Linked DNA regions of Homo sapiens. Changing the gene in region 1 together with any one later gene gives a genetic interaction. Each region holds a gene or a part of one and is shown in the gene's direction. Other genes may lie near its edges.

Region 1 (3,239 bases):
TAAAAATACAAAAATTAGCTGCGCTTGGTGGTGCGCGCCTGTAATCCCAGCTACTTAGGAGGCTGAGGCATGAGAATCGCTTGAAGCCAGGAGGCGGAGGTTGCAGTCAGCCAAGATTGCACCACTGCACTCTGGCCTGGGTGACAGAGAAAGAAAGAGAGGAAAAGAGGGAAGGGAGGGAGAAAGAGAGAGAAAGAGAGAGGGAAAGGGAGGGGGAAGGAGGGAGGGAGGGAGGAAAAAGGAAGGAAGGAAGGAGGGAGAGAGGAAGGTGGAAAGAAGGATGGGAAGAAAGGACAGGAAGGAAGAAGAAAAGAAGTCCATCCATCCCATCCATCATGCTTCTTCACCTGTCCAGTTTCTATCTATTATGGAAACCCATGATCTAGGTTTCCCCACCGTGGGAACAATGTTACTTAACTGCTTCAGCCCAGGTAGTGGTTTTATCACTAAATGGGAAGATTTCTGTCCTAATCAGTATCCTGTCAACCTAGTAGCTTAAGGACAAGCATTAGATTTCAGCTTTTCTTTCCTACCTTTTTAGTGGGGCCGCTCCTTAACTGAAAACAATTTCTCAAAAGTACTCTCCCACTATTTCTGCAGACCCTCTGGAGACTTTGGGGTGTGGCTGGTTCCTGAGCATATCCAAATGGTGCCTTCCCAGGTGTGTGTTCCCATCTTTGTGCCTCACAACAGTTCACTTGTATTTTCCCTCTTTGTCTGGCAGGACCAGTTTGACATGGTGAGTGATGCTGACCTTCAAGTCCTAGATGGCAAAATCGTGGCCCTCACTGCTAAGGTGCAGAGCTTGCAGCAGAGCTGCCGCTACATGGAGGCTGGTAGGACTGGGTAGCCCCTCCAAAGTGCCCATAGGCTTAGGTTCATTCTAGAGGTCAGGAATTACTAAATGAATGGTTCAATGACTGCAGCATCTTGTTGCAGCTAAGACCCCTTTGCTGGGCTCCCTTAGGCATAAAAAGAAATGTAGGATAACTAACGGCTTTTGTGTACCAACAAATGGACAAGATACGCATTTGTTCTCCCTGCCACGATTATCAGTACACTGTCCCCACGTTTCCCTTTATTCCTGCTTCTTTAACTGGCTACGCCTAAGTAAGTGTTCAACCTCACACCCACGCCACTTGTAGATGGAGGAGGAAAGAAAATTAGAAGAATAAATAATCCTGTATGGCTTAGTTTCCATGTGAGATGATAGATCCAGAGCAAGGTGGAACACCTCAGGGAGCACCCACTGGGAAAGACAGAACTCCTTCCTCAGGGGTAGCAAGTGACCCCAGGCGGATGTGGTTTCAGAGCTCAAGGAATTATCTAGTGCCCTGACCACACCAGAGATGCAGAAAGAAATCCAGGAGTTAAAGAAGGAATGCGCTGGCTACAGAGAGAGATTGAAGAACATTAAAGCAGCTACCAATCATGTGACTCCAGAAGAGAAAGAGCAGGTGAGCTGGAAGGCTGTAGGACCGCTGTGCAGGTCCAGAGTGAACATCAGGGCTGAGCCCCAGAGGGCTGCTGTGGTTCTGAGGAGTTAGAGGAACTTGCTTTTTCCTTCTAGGTGTACAGAGAGAGGCAGAAGTACTGTAAGGAGTGGAGGAAGAGGAAGAGGATGGTAAGTGTGTGGGAGCTCCGAGACAGGCCCTGGAGGTGCCTTTGAAAATGGCAGGCACCAGATCAGCCGCTACACAATATCATAAACTGACAGGCAGTGCCCAGTGCTGCCCATCTGAAAACGGGTGGTTTTATTTCTTGTCAGGCTACAGAGCTGTCTGATGCAATACTTGAAGGATACCCCAAGAGCAAGAAGCAGTTCTTTGTAAGTGGAGCTCTCTTCCTTCTTTGCTTCCCTGTGGTCTTATCCTGGTGACATCTCATTCACTTGTCTCCCTGTCTCACAGGAGGAAGTTGGGATAGAGACGGATGAAGATTACAACGTCACACTCCCAGACCCCTGAGGGGCCCACGGTCAGGACTGGTGGGGACTGCAGGATGTCAGAAGAGTGAGATGTCTTGCACTGGCTACCTTGTTTTTGGTTGGCTTTTGTTGTTGTTCCTGCTACTTTCACCTTTAAGCAGAGCAGTCAGGAGACAAGCATAAACCAGAGCACTGGGTAGAGAGGATGAGGGCTGGTGGCTGGGGGTAGACCCAGCCCATTTCATTGTCTAAATTGCAGTAGCTTGAGGTTAACATTTAGACTTGGAACAATGCTAAAGGAAAGCATTTGGCAATATTTATTATAATTTAATTTTATATAAAAATATTTAATTTCCTCTGGATAGTCAAACCTGCCAGATATCAAACCTGAGGAAGGCAGAAGTGAATTTGGAGAACTAGGGTAGAGAGAGGTTGCTATAAAACGAGCATTTGGAGGGCCCACGGCTTCACTCAGGACCTGCTGGGCTTGTGTACCCCAGGAGCCCTTTTAAGTATCTTTTGTACGCTTTTCACCCCACCCCCAAGTCCTGGGAGAAATGCAGGCAACACTGAGACATGGGAGAGGCCAAGATATGCTTGACAGAAAGGGTGATTTTGAGGCTCAGTTAATATTTCAAAATTGTAACCGTAGCAAAACTGCATTGGTATTTAGAAAAATAAAAAATTTCCAATATGTAGTGCTGTGTTATACCTGCCTCTGCCATGCAGCATCATAGCCTGTGGGAACCGGGAGGGCTTCCCTTACCACCCAGAGCAGAGGAGGAAGGTGATGGAATATGGGGTGAGGGGAGGAACCTGGTGGCCCCTCCCTGAGATGGCCAGAAAGCCCTTGGCCTCACCTGGGACTGACCAGGCAGCCCTAGTCTAGGCACAAGGTGCCCTTTCACCCTTCATGGCTGTGGGAATATTTCCTCTTACTCTTTTTCTCCCATACAGCTACTGCCAAAATGCCCAAACTTGGGCCAAATGTTGCCCAAACTTGGGCCAAAAATGTTGCCCAAGAGACCAAAACAGAGGAAAACAGTTTCCAAATCTATGTAGATCATGAGCAGAAATCTGAGGCTTGAATAAAGGGCTGAGAGGGCAGGAGCTCTTTGGGGTGTCCAGAGCAGACGCCCATCCCAAGGACTTCCATGGAGTGGGGGGAAGGCTGGGTAGGTTTGAGTTTTATCGTCAATATAATAAATTAATCAGAAGCTTTCACAAAACAAACACCGCGGCTCCGCTGAAGATAAAATGGGGCTGGGAAAAACCAAACACCAAGTAGAAACCAGCTGACCAGTGTGAGGTG
Region 2 (3,819 bases), about 11 Mb from region 1:
TGTCCCTATCCTAGCCATTAGCTTTCCTATAGATCCTTGATTTCCTCATCTGTTGAAAAAGAAATGGCTAGAAAATCTTTTAGATTCTTTCAAGTTTAAATATTCGATGATTTTAATATTCTAACAGCATGTCTCTGTGACCCAGCAGTCTATTGGGAGCTGACCCCACTTGATTTACCAAACTCTTTCCCATTATGCCTCTGCATGCACCTATGTTCCAGGCAGGTCACCTCAGTCTCTTCTGTGTGTATCATGCTTCTTCCCACTTCTTGGCCTTTATTTCTGCCAGTCTCTGCCTGAATGCTTTAATTCCTCCTTTGTGCTTTTCTAATTCCTGTCCATCCTTCAATGTTCAGCTCAGATTTCATTTTTTTTTTTTCCCCATGAGGTTGTTTCAGACTAAACTCTGCTATCTCACTTCTTGGTATCCTTGTTACCTGGAGTTTTACAGAACCACACAGTAAGTTTTCTTCCTTTAGGAGGATTGTTTGAACACAGCTTGGCTTTGTTTTCTTTTTTTCTTGTCTTTTTATCAAATGGAGTGCATACTTTCTGAAAAGCAAAGAACGCTATTTGAATTCTCTTCTAGTCACCCCAGTGCCCAGCACAGTCTTAAACACACAGAACATTGATGGAATGTTTTTCATATGATTCCTGGTTGAAGGGTAGACTGGCTAAATAAAAAAAGTGGTACTTTTGGCTTTGTTTTACTGAATTTTACTTCCATGTTTGCAATAGCCTAGGTCTGATAAGTGATATTTTAACTAGGAATGAGTAAGAAAATTAGCATAAAGAAGGAATTTATACATATTTATATTTCCTCCCATAGAGCAAACATGTTTTTTGAATCAGGTTTCAGATCTGATCAACTACTTTTGTAATTTTGGATTTGTCACTTACTGTTAGGATATTTTGCAATGGTGTGATAGAATATGAATGTGAAGCACTTTGAAAAGTCTAAAATTTTTCTAATATAAGATTTATATGTTTTCTTTATAGCTTATTATTATTATTATTTTTTGTGTGTGTGACAGAGTCTTGCTCTGTCACTCAGGCTAGAGTGCAGTGTAGCTTATTACTGATTATTGTGTTTTCATTAAATAAGGGAGAGTAGGCCAGGTGCGGTAGCTGATGCTTGTAATCCCAGCACTTTGGGAGGCCCATGTGGGAGGACTGCTTGAGGCCTTGAATTCAAGACCAGGCTGTGCAACATAGTGAGATGCTGTCTCTAAAAAAAATTAGTTGGGTGTGGTGGCATGTGCCTGTAGTCGCAGCTACTCAGGAGGCTGAGGCAGGAAGATCACTTGAACCCAGGAGTTCAAGCATACAGTGAGCCATGATTGTGCCACTGTACTCCAGCTTCGGTGACAGAGTGAGACCCTGTCTTCCAAAAAAAAAAAAAGAGAGCGTGACTAGTCTCTGGATATTCCTTTGTATGTACCTTGGCCAATATATACCTTACTTTAGTATCCATTGACAAGTTCTCTTTTTTCTTCTTCTTCATTTTTTTTTTTTTGAGATAGAGTCTCGCTCTATTGCCCAGGTTGGAGTGCAGTGGCACGATCTCAGCTCACTGCAAGCTCCACCTTCTGGGTTCAAGCGATTCTCCTGCCTCAGCCTCCCAAGTAGCTGGCATTACAGGCACGTACTACCACACCTGGCTAATTTTTGTATTTTTAAAAGAGACAAGGGTTCGCCATGTTAGCTGGTCTCAAACTACTGACCTCAAACAATCCACCTGCCTCAGCCTCCCAAAGTGCTGGGATTATAGGCATAAGCTGTGGTGCTGGTCTAATATTGTTACATTTTATTTTAAATGTTCCTGTTTTTTGCCCTACTCTTTTTATTTGACTTTTTAACCATTAGGAAATTAGATTCTTTTCTCAAATCTGCTTTATTATTATTATTATTTTGAGACAAGTTCTCGCTTTCTCGCCTAGGCTGGAGTGTAGTGGTACAATTTTGGCTCACTGCAACCTCTGCCTCCCGGGTTCAAGTGATTCTCCTGCCTCAGCCTCCCAAGTAGCTGGGATTACAGGCGTGTGCCACCACACCCAGCTAATTTTTTTGTATTTTTAGTAGAGGCAGGGTTTTACCATGTTGGCTAGGCTGGTCTTGAACTCCTGACCTGAGGTGATCCGCCCGCTTCAGCCTCCCAAAGTGCTGGGATCACAGGCTTGAACCACCGTGCCTGGCCCTATTTTTGTATTTTTACTATAGACGGGGTTTTGCCATGTTGGCCAGGCTGGCCTCAAACACCTGCCTCAGCCTCCCAAAGTGCTGGGATTACAGATGCAAGCCACTGCACCTGGCCTTAAGTCTGCTTTTAAAAAATGTTTTGGCTGGGTGCGGTGGCTCATGCCTATAATTCAAGCTTTTTGGGGGGCTGAGGTGGGAGGATCACTTGGGCCTCAGAGTTTGAGACCAGCCTGGGCAACAGAGTGAGACCCCATCTCTACAAAAAGTAAAAAAAACAAATAAAAAAAAAATCAGCCAGTGTGCATTGGTTGAAAGTAAAGAAAAGAAAAAAAACAGACAAATTAGCCAAGTGTGGTAGTATATGCTACTTGGGAGGCTGAGTCAGGATTGCTTGAGCCCAGGAAATTAAGGCTGCAGTGAGGCATGATTGCACCACTGCACTCTGGCCTGGGTGAGACCCTGTCTCAAAAAAAATTTTTTTTTTTAATATGGAGAAAGTATTTTTGTTTTTCGTTTTTTATTTGGGTACCGGCCACTGCACCCAACCAAACATTTTGTCCTTAAACAAAAGTTTAAGTCATATAATACAGTAGTAAGAATGCCTTATTTTTTACATCTTTGTTCTTTAAATTACTCAGATTGCTATGGGGCATTTTTGTTGTAGCTTTCAAATTTGGTATTCTGGGGTTCTATGTAGACTCTATATTGTTGCATTCTAACGACATACTTTTAAGGATAAGCAGCGTATTAATTAAAAATGTGTTTTCCACTTGTGTTCCTTAGGTCTGCGTATATTTTGGAGGTGTGTGTGTATATAAGTCAAGGGACAGGAGGTATCGGAAGGCTCTAAAGGAAGTTTAAGGAGGAGAATATTCTATAGAAGTGGAAGGGGAGATTTGTGGTCAGCTTAAACTGTTAAAAGGCTTGGGATCAATACCGAAGCAGAATATGAGCATCTTAATCTGTTTCTTTGCAAAGGATTGACTTGTATTTATAAAAGCATTGGCTTGTTTCATCTGACATCTTTTAAAGTACCCCATTTTCTTGGGGGCGGGAAGGGAGAGATGAGACCATTTGTTTTGATCTTGAAGGACAGAAAAGTGGTTTTACGTTGTAGTGACTGTGAATTAAGTTTAAGGTCTCAGCAAGTTGTAAATTTCTGTATCATACTATGTGGTAGAGCCTTCAGTAAACAGAGTACTCTCAGGTGTTTAATGCTATAGGATATAAACTATAACTGCTGTTTATAGTACCCTCGCTAAATTCTCTTAAAGGCAATCCATTTGACCACTTCAAATGTTATATGCCTGTGATATATAGTTATATTCTCTGCATATAACTGGTTTTTAAAAATTGTTTATTATTCATTTATTTTAGAAGTGAGGTCTCTCTTTGTTCCTCAGGCTGGAGTGCAGTGGTGTGATCATAGCTCACCATAGCCTCGAACTCCTGGGCTCAAGTGATCTCCCACCTCCCGAATATCTAGGACTATGGGCGTGCGCCACCATACCTGGCTATTATTTTAATTTTTTTCGTAGAGACAGTGTCTTGTTATGTTGCCCAGGCTGGTCTCAAACTCTTGGCCTCAAGCAGTCTTCCCACCTGGCTTCCCAAAGCACT

Evidence for each region.
Region 2: changes in PSMC3IP (region 1) and NF1 together harm fitness more than expected from each alone (negative genetic interaction), as found in Homo sapiens cells (one large-scale study listed by BioGRID).

The regions. Positions count from the first base shown.
Region 1 is NC_000017.11:42,571,696-42,574,934, reverse strand, and holds the end of PSMC3IP (homologous-pairing protein 2 homolog), read left to right. Parts: intron 1-600; exon of another isoform or gene 601-619; intron 620-724; coding exon 725-836; exon of another isoform or gene 837-1,116; intron 1,117-1,311; coding exon 1,312-1,457; intron 1,458-1,570; coding exon 1,571-1,624; intron 1,625-1,731; exon of another isoform or gene 1,732-1,768; coding exon 1,769-1,828; exon of another isoform or gene 1,829-1,910; coding exon 1,911-1,967; 3' UTR 1,968-2,625; downstream 2,626-3,239. UniProt on the Homo sapiens protein: Plays an important role in meiotic recombination. Stimulates DMC1-mediated strand exchange required for pairing homologous chromosomes during meiosis.
Region 2 is NC_000017.11:31,101,348-31,105,166, forward strand, and holds part of NF1 (neurofibromin), read left to right. Parts: intron 1-3,819. UniProt on the Homo sapiens protein: Stimulates the GTPase activity of Ras. NF1 shows greater affinity for Ras GAP, but lower specific activity. May be a regulator of Ras activity.